Linked DNA regions of Homo sapiens: region 1 is linked to region 2. The links come from fine-mapping of genetic effects on gene expression. A gene starts in region 2. The other region holds a variant in brackets. All regions are shown on one strand. Distances are from middle to middle.

Evidence for each region. PIP is the estimated chance that this variant, and not a neighbour inherited with it, causes the effect. A credible set is the group of variants that fine-mapping cannot tell apart.
Region 1: its variant is the best candidate, but not a certain one, in a credible set for the expression of FRMPD2 in cerebellar hemisphere (GTEx, PIP 0.89).

Annotation. Positions count from the first base shown.
Region 1 is chr10:48,172,607-48,177,001 of GRCh38, reverse strand. It overlaps FRMPD2 (FERM and PDZ domain containing 2), which reads left to right. Exons shown (of 29, transcript NM_001018071.4): 23 at 1,063-1,156; 24 at 2,047-2,132; 25 at 3,909-4,056. Among named protein-coding and RNA genes, the nearest start is that of FRMPD2, 100 kb to the left of the region's middle. The variant C/A (reference allele first, on the strand shown) is at 1,830.
Region 2 is chr10:48,272,774-48,277,168 of GRCh38, reverse strand. FRMPD2 (FERM and PDZ domain containing 2) reads left to right here and starts at 2,473. Exons shown (of 29, transcript NM_001018071.4): 1 at 2,473-2,626. The coding sequence starts at 2,602.

The DNA of each region.
Region 1 (4,395 bases), 100 kb after region 2:
ACACTCTATGGCTGATGAAAATTTTCAGAGGAAATTCAAGAGATATGTGAATGGAGGGCATTCTTTGCTTTCCCCTGTGATAATGCTATGTACCTAGAGCAAGAATATGTGTTTTCTTGGACCCTAAGCCTGCAATGAATTTGTCATCAGTAGATGATTTTAAGGGACCAAGTAAGAAACCAAGCAATAAGGCTCATGAATCCACATGGAGTGAACAGGCTGATACCAAATATGGTCCATTTATTCTTGGCTTGGGGTAACAGCCTTATCAGACACCAAACATAGCTATTTTTCATCTGAAAAACTGACTAAATTTTGGGTTATTCACAAATATATATTTGCTGAGAAGAGGTTGATGATTTCCTTTGGCTGGCAAAAACTTGGATTTTCTTTGCAGATATTTAATTTCAAAAATAATTCTTGAAATGTCTCACTCAAATCCAAATGGCCATTAAACACATGAAAAACACTCAAACCCGTGAAAAGCCACAGGAATACAAATTAAATTAAAATAAAATTTTAAACTTTATGTCTACCAGCTTGGCCAAATATAGCTGGTGGAATGTAGAAAAATGGTACTGTCATACAAAGCTGGTAGAAATGTGAATAAGTATATCCATATTCACATAGGGATGCAATCTGGCAACATGTATTATAATGAAAAATGCACATATCCTTTGGCCCATCAAAGCACACAAGACGTGCCAGGCACAAGCCTTCAGGCCCACAGCCATATCCACCTACGCTGGTCACTACCTATATAGAGATAGTGGTGCATCCCACGTGAGCAGTTGCTGAGCACCCGCCTTGTACCAGTGCTTGGGCTGGGGACATGCCCAGATCTCTCACATAGTTGCTATTGTTAAGCTTATGAACACCTAATCTTATTGCTCAGTGGAGAATACAATCTAAACGAACAGGTGAATACAGAAGACAGTGCCAGTCGGAGGTAAGGTCATGGGATAGAGTGGTGGGCAGGTGGGGATTCCCTTAGCTGGGGAGGTTGGGGAGGCTTCCTGGAGGAGGAAAGATGGGTGGTGAGTTTTTTGTTGTGTTTTTCAGGGTGGCATTAACACCAGTGTGCCATATGGTGGTATCTATGTGAAATCCATTGTTCCTGGAGGACCAGCTGCCAAGGAAGGGCAGATCCTACAGGGTGAGAGATGGGGATGGGTCCTCATTGGGAACTCTGTGCTCCATGGTGTAAAGAGCCCTGCACTGGGAGGGGCAGCCTCTAGGCCTTGCCCTGCTCCCATTCTGAAAACTCATGCAAATGATTGCCTCCCCAGGTCATACTTTTCTCACCTGGAAAGGAGGTGATAGAACCTGCCCTGCCCATTTGATAGGTTGGGGGGTCTGCAGTGGCACACTGGGAAGCATAGGTGATAGAAAAATAGTAGAAGACTTAAAAGACTTGTGTTGCTCTTTGGCCTCCATGGGAAAACATACTGCTTCCCTTGGAGGACAAGTGGGCCTCGGTAAACTCACTCGCACATCCGGGGAGGACACCTGAGCCTTCTGTTTGCCCTTGCTCAGCTCCCACTTCTCTGATGGAAGGGGGTGATTTTTACTGGTCTCCAAAACTGCCAGAATTGAGCCAAAAGGGGAACCTAGGATCTTACTTATCTCCATTTCCCCTAGAATTCTGGTGTCCCCAGCGTCAACCATGCCTCCCTGACCTTTTTTTGAAATAAAAAAAATACATGCTGGAGATATAAATATCTAAGTGACTTGAAAATACTTCCAAAAATGGTTTCACAGGAAAACAGGAGGAAGGATAAGGTTGAACAGAGCTGGCTCAACCATTCTGTGAGCCAATAATAGAAAGG[C/A]TTTTATATCCCTGATCTGTGATGTGCCTGAGAAGAAGGGAGTGAGACTGCTCAGAGAGGCAGGATTCCTGCTGACTCCAGGGGGACACCTGGCACCTCAGCTTCCTTTCCCACTTCTCCAGGCTGCATGGAGGGGTGCCGGGCAGGGGCCTCCTGGAAGGGAACCTCCTGCAGCCTCAAGCACCAGGTCATGACATGACATCTATCCCTTTCCCAGGTGACCGACTCCTGCAGGTGGATGGAGTGATTCTGTGCGGCCTCACCCACAAGCAGGCTGTGCAGTGCCTGACGGGTCCTGGGCAGGTGAGTGGACTGTTGCTGACCAGCTTCCCCTCCTTCCGGAACTTTCCTGAACAACATCAGAAGCTGAAATCGCCTCTGGGTGGGAGGGAGGCAGGCAAGAAACAAGACTTTTTCTTTGTTAGTTTTTTTTTTCTCTTCCATTTCTTCTTACCCTCACTTTTCTATGGGGATGTGAAACCCAGGAGATAGCAGATAGATGTTTCTGAGTAAAAAAAATCTCACCCCCCATAGATAGCCTTAGAAACTTACTGGTGGCTTGCCTGAATTCTGGAATCAGACAGCGGAATGGAGAAGATGGAGTGAAGAGACTGCTCTAGCCTGGCTCTGGCTGCCCCAGCCCCGCTGGCCCTGTGTCCATGGGCCTTCTTACCTCCCTACGTTTGCATAGGATGACCCCACTCCGTTCCCTGTTCATGCCATTCCCCCTCACCCTGTGTTGTACCCACCAGGGCGTGGGTCAGAGTGTCCTGGGATTCTTTTCCTCACAATGAGGTAGGAATTCAGGGTGCCAAGAGCAGAGCCATTCATCCTTTATGTCCCCTTTATTCCCTGCCCCGCAGTGACTCGATGTTATCCCACTGTGCCGAGTCCTCTGCCTGAGGTTAGGAGCCTCTAACTGCCTCTGTGTCCTGAGCCACAGAGCTGGCATCACCCTCTTTTGGCAACTAAAAAGTCAACAGAGACAGGAGGGATTCCTGAAGGCCCTTCCAGCAAGCTTGGGGCAATGTTCTGGCCACTTTTCGCTTTCTTTCCCAAAGCGGTTTTCTGGTGTCTGGTGAAATTTGCTTATATTAGTGACTTTGGTTGACCTATCTTGAGAACAGAGCCATAATTTATTGGCACCTTCTGATATTTAGACCTTTGCTAATGAGCATGGGTAGAGAGGGTACTTGGCTGGCCTCCTGGCAGCTTAAGCAGGTAGGAATTGTCCCTCTGGGATCCTGGGCCAGGTGCTGAGTGACAGGTGCAACAGGAAGATGAAGGCAGGGCCACATGCCCTGAATGGGAGCTTGGCATTTCTGAGAAGCTTCCAGGTGATGTCTATCTGCTGGTTCTTGAATCACACTTAGGGCGACAAGGGTATATGGTGTTGTGGGGAGAAATGTGGGAAATCACATTGGAAAGAAAGGGGAGGGCAGGTGGTACAGACCTGGGGTGCCATGGGTTTGGGTCTTAGGTGATGGGAAGCATTGGAGACTTTAAATCAAGAATGTTGCATGTTCAGTTTTTGTCTTAGACCAATTCACTGGCAGCCATGATGGGGTGGACCAAGAAGGGTGCAGACAGGGTCCAGTGAGCCAAGGTAACCAGAGCTTGCCACGGCCCAGCGGGTCACTGGCAGTGAGAGAGGAGGTGGAGGGGAGGGGGCACTGAGGAGCTGTTCTTGATGGGGAATGTTCACATCTTAGAAACCAGATGGGGGAGAGCTGGACCACTCCAAATGTGGCCCTTGGCAGGTTAATGGTGGGGTGAGCCAATGCGAGGGGAGGAGTGTTTTAGGAAGAACGAGGAGGGGAAGTGAGGGTGAGTGAGGGGAGGAAGATGAGTGTGGCACTGCATGTGTGAAGTGGAGGTACATGTGTTGCTTTCAGGTGCACTTGTCTAATAAGCACTGAGAAATCTGGGTCTAGATCCCAATATATAGGCTAGTTGAGAGATTCAAATGAGTCTGCTTATAGGAAGGATTCGAAAATTAAGAAGCATTTGCAGAGTCAAGGGAGTGCCTCCTGGTTGCCATATGAAGTGTAAACTGAGTTTGTTCACCTTTCCTTCTAGGTTGCAAGACTGGTCTTAGAGAGAAGAGTCCCCAGGAGTACACAGCAGTGTCCTTCTGCTAATGACAGCATGGGAGATGAACGCACGGCTGTTTCCTTGGTAACAGCCTTGCCTGGCAGGCCTTCGAGCTGTGTCTCAGTGACAGATGGTGAGAGGGGAGAGAATTGAGTGTTACTATTGTCATGTTATTGTGTGCCGCTTTTGAATTGTCAAGTCAAAAGGGAAAGGCAGGAAGGCTTCCTCTGGGTCCTGAAAAGAAAGCGAGCCATAGTGATCATGCTGAGATCTGCTTTTTCATGCCATGGAAGCCCATCTCATGGAATAGGTTTCTGGAAACAAATGCATTTTCCCCAAATTATTTCTAGGCATCTTTCTGCCCCCAGCCTTCCTCAGTCCTTTGATCAGCTGCCAGAATGTTAATGTTTGTGTGAATATTTAGGATGAAATTGACTGAAAGGGTCATACACTTTCAGATACATTTGGCTTC
Region 2 (4,395 bases):
GAAACAACAGACACTGGGGTCTACCTGAGGGTTGGGGGGGTGTGAGTAGACAGAGAACCAATAACTACTGGGTACTGGGCTTAATATCTGGGTGATGAAATAATCTGTACAACAAACCCCCATGACATGAGTTTACCTCTGTAACAAAACTTCACATGTACTCTCGAACCTAAAATAAAGTTTTTTTTTTAAATGATCATACGCAATAAAGAATTTTGACAGGAAAATAACCTTAAAAAATAAAAATATATAAAATATAACAAAATTATATAGGGAATGACACAGAGATAACTCAGAGAGAAACTATTAGCTTTGATAACTTGAAAAACAAAAACACATTGATAAAATTTTTATGCAAAAAAATGGACTTAATGAAATGTTAGCAGAGCAACAATAGAAGGGGGTTACTGCTAGTATTTTTAACAGAAAAAGTGAAAGTGGTGGTGACTTTAAGCAGACCAGCATTTACCTGTTGGCAGATGACTTAGGTGTTGCTTTTTGTTCTGTTGTGAACGAGCCACATGACTGGAGAAGTCAACTTTCTTCTTCTGGGAGAAAGGTTGCGTGGTCAGCCTGAAAAAATTACTAAATAAAAATTACCTGGACACTTGCTGAAAATACAGATGCTCTGGCTCGGGCCCAGAGATTCAGGTTCAGCAGATTCAGGGTGGTGCCTGGGAATCTGCATTTTATCGTCTTCAAGGCTGAATCTGATGAGAAGACAAGTTTGGAAAAAACAGTAAAAGATTGTTGCAGATATTGTGAAATGTTTTGCTAGCTAGCAGGGAATGTCAATATAGATAGCTTTAAGCAGAAAAAAATGTAAAACATTGTGTTTTTTAGTTTTTTTCAAGTAATATAACATAAGGTTATAGGGGGAAAATACCAAAATGAACAATAATTTTCCTGACTAAATAATGAGCCAAAACTCTTTCCCCTAGCAACCACTATTAAGTTGCTTGTGATTCCTTCCAGAACCACAAGAATATGTCTACATAATATTCTAATATACTACAGTGTATAAAGAATATGTATACATAAATATACGTAAATATACCTGGTCTTTATGTACCTATTTGTAATAAAAGGAAACATACTAGGCTATTCCATACCTTTTGTCACTTAAAGAATTTTCTAGGCAATTGTTATATGCCAGCACACACAGATCTACTTCCTTCCTTTACACAGCTGCATAGCTGGTTTTCTACTGTGTGTGAACTACAATAATCACTGTTGATGGGCACTTCAGTGGCTTTCAGTTTTCTGCTACTACCAAAATACACTGCAAAGAGCATCCTTTCTCAGATGCTTTGGTGAACTTTTGCAAGAATGTCCATGGGGTTACTTCTTAGCAGCTGGGTTTACAAAGGATATGTACATTTACAAATTTGATGAATATTACCAAATTCCCTGCAGAGAAGTTGCACTTATCTGTAATCTCACTATTGGCATATGAGAGTACTCATTCTCCATGCCCTCACCAGCACTGAGTTTCATCAGATTTTTTTTTCGAGACAGAGTCTCGCTCTGTCACCCAGGCTGGAGTGCAGTGGCCCGATCTTGGCTCACTGCAAGCTCCGCCTCCCAGGTTCACGCCATTCTTCTGCCTCAGCCTCCGGAGTAGCTGGGACTACAGGCACCCGCCTCCAGGCCCAGCTAATTTTTTGTATTTTTAGTAGAGACGGGGTTTTGCCATGTTAGCCAGGATGGTCTCGATCTCCTGACCTCGTGATCTGCCCGCCTTGGCCTCCCAAAGTGCTGGGATTACAGGCATGAGCCACTGTGCCCGGCCTCAAATTTTAGTATTTTATTCTGTAGTCAGGCAAAAACTCATGTTTTCTTTTTAAATAAATACGTCTCAGTTTTGACACTGCTATTGATTTAAAGGGCTTGAGAGATCTGTTCTTTTGCCCCTTCTACTACAGAGCTATGATCTACTTCTTGCTGTTCCCCATCTCTGCTGGTTCCTTTCTGAATCCAAGCACCAGAAAGAGTAAGAATTCCTTTCCCCCTTTCTCTAACCACATTTTTCTTGCTTTCTCACAGACAGATCCAGGTTATCATTTCCTCCTGCTGCTTTCACATGGTTCCCTGTCCTGTTGGTTGCAGGTCCAATGTCTGACACTATGAAAGGGCATGGAGGACTCTTGAGTTGATGACACTAAGCCTCTGCTCTGGGGCTGCCCCCAGTTCCTTGCAGAGCTCTTTCTTTTGATTGGGCCAGGAGATAAAGAGACATCAGCGTAAAAGCCCTGCTGAGCAGCAATCCCATTGCCTTCAGTGGCACCTAATCCACTTGAGCTCTTCCTGGCTCTCTCACGGGTCACTGGCTTTGAGGACGCAGGCTGCTGGGGTGGCAGTGCCTGCTAACAGGCCAGAGACTGCGCAGGACCCAGGGAATGAGAGTGGTGGCAGGAAAGGGAAGGGGCCTTGTTGACTCACTCGCTGGGCAGCAAGTGCTTAGTGACAAGCAGTAAACAAAGACAGCGGCAACAGTGCTGGTGGCAGGGAGCTCCGCGGACAGACTTGCAAGAGACCCCTGCTCCTTGTTGGAAAGTTGTCCCATGATGAAGGCCTAGACCTGGTCACGGAGACTTTTGGATGCAGCCTTTAACGAAGGACGCAGGTATTCCTTGGCATCATTCAGTTTTCTCCTATAAATCTGGTCAGGGAAAGGGCAAACTTCTTACTGGGTCTAGGTATCCGGAATAAGAAGAACACAGCTGGGCAAGGACCTGTGTCAGTGCCCTTTGTGGTATTATTTGGAGTATTATTTGTTCCAGGCCATTGGCTAAGCCTGATAGACATTGTATTTGTTTTTTAGCAATAAAGAATGGGCTCAGAAGAGAAAACATGGACTTTAGAATCAGACCACCCCTTGTTTGAATCACTGCTTTGCTATTCAGCATCTGTGCAAATTCAAATGACTCTTTTAACTTTCCTAAGACTCGTTTTTCTTACCTGTAAAATGGGGATAATAATGCCCCATGCGTTACGATGTTGCTGAGGATTCATGGGGTGACACGCGTAAGGCACTTAGAACATACTTGGAGCATTTGAGTAGCCCAGTAAATCATGGCTGTCACTATCTTTCAGAAGCAAGTGTTTTGGTTATTGCTTAAAGAGTATCAGTGGTTTAAAGTAAGAAGACTCAGGGTATGCCTAGCTGACTTCCAGAAAACAATGGAAAAGAAATGATTCACCTGGCTTTATTTGTATGCTTAAAGGAAAGAAAAAACTCAGTTGAGGTTTTCAACAGTGTAAACAACTTTTTTTTTTTTTTAAAGCAACAATTGAGTTCAGAGATGAGTCGTGTCTATTTCTCCTGGCTAAATCCTGTGATTTGCTATAGGCTGTAGCTGAAACCAATTAAGTAGTTCATTAATTCAACGAGAACTTACTTGGTATCTCCTGGGGCCACATGCCAAATGCTGGGGATGTCTCCCCCAGCCCAGAGGATCTTCCAGGTTGTAGGACAGTGGGGGTCGGGGGGCAGAATGCTGGACCTGCATGAAAACTGGCGGTGATAGCAAGTGCCGAAATGGAGGTGGCACGGGCTCCTGGGAGAGGTGTTGCTTGAGCATGGCTTTAATGCTAAGCGAACACTAGCAGGAGTTGGGAGCAGGGGGATTGGAAAAGGCATCCCAAGCAGAGAAAAGCACATGCAAAGGCCCAGTGGCATGAATAAGTAAAGCATGCTCTGGGAACAGCAGGCAGTTTGGCCTAACTTTAGTAAAGTGGGAACAGGGGAATCTGATAAGAAAGGAGGCTGCAGAGGTGAACAGGGGAGAGCAAGGAAGGCCTTCTATGGCCCAGAGTTCACTCAGAAGGTCCCAGATAGGCACTGGTAGTTTTAATGAAGGATGTGTCGTGTCTGCATTTAATATTAAGAAGATTAATCTAGTAGCAATATGGGTGTGGGATTGGAGAGGATGAAACCTGGAATGATGACAGATGGCCTAACCTAAGAAAACAACAGTGGAATGTAGAGAAGGGGAGGTCTCCAAGCTGGTGCTGCCAGCACTGTGAGCAAAAACAAATACATATGCATCTAATAAGTTCATTATAAATTTTACTGATATGAAGGATGTATATTGCACAATTTACAAGTAATAAAATATAAAATACTCTTTATTACAAATTCTATATAGCCATTTGATTCTCACAGCATGCATTTGTTGATTTTTGCTGAACTCTTATACCCTTGGTCAGCCTGTTTGCAATTGACCACTGAATGTAGTTCCAATATGAATGTTGGTTGATATTTTTGTTTACATTGACAAGTAAGAAGAAAGTGAAACAATGAAGATGATTGTCTTAACTTCACTCATCTGTCAATGACATGAGTGACTGCTGGATCAGATCATAGTTTTTGAATTTGGAAGAGTGTTTTCC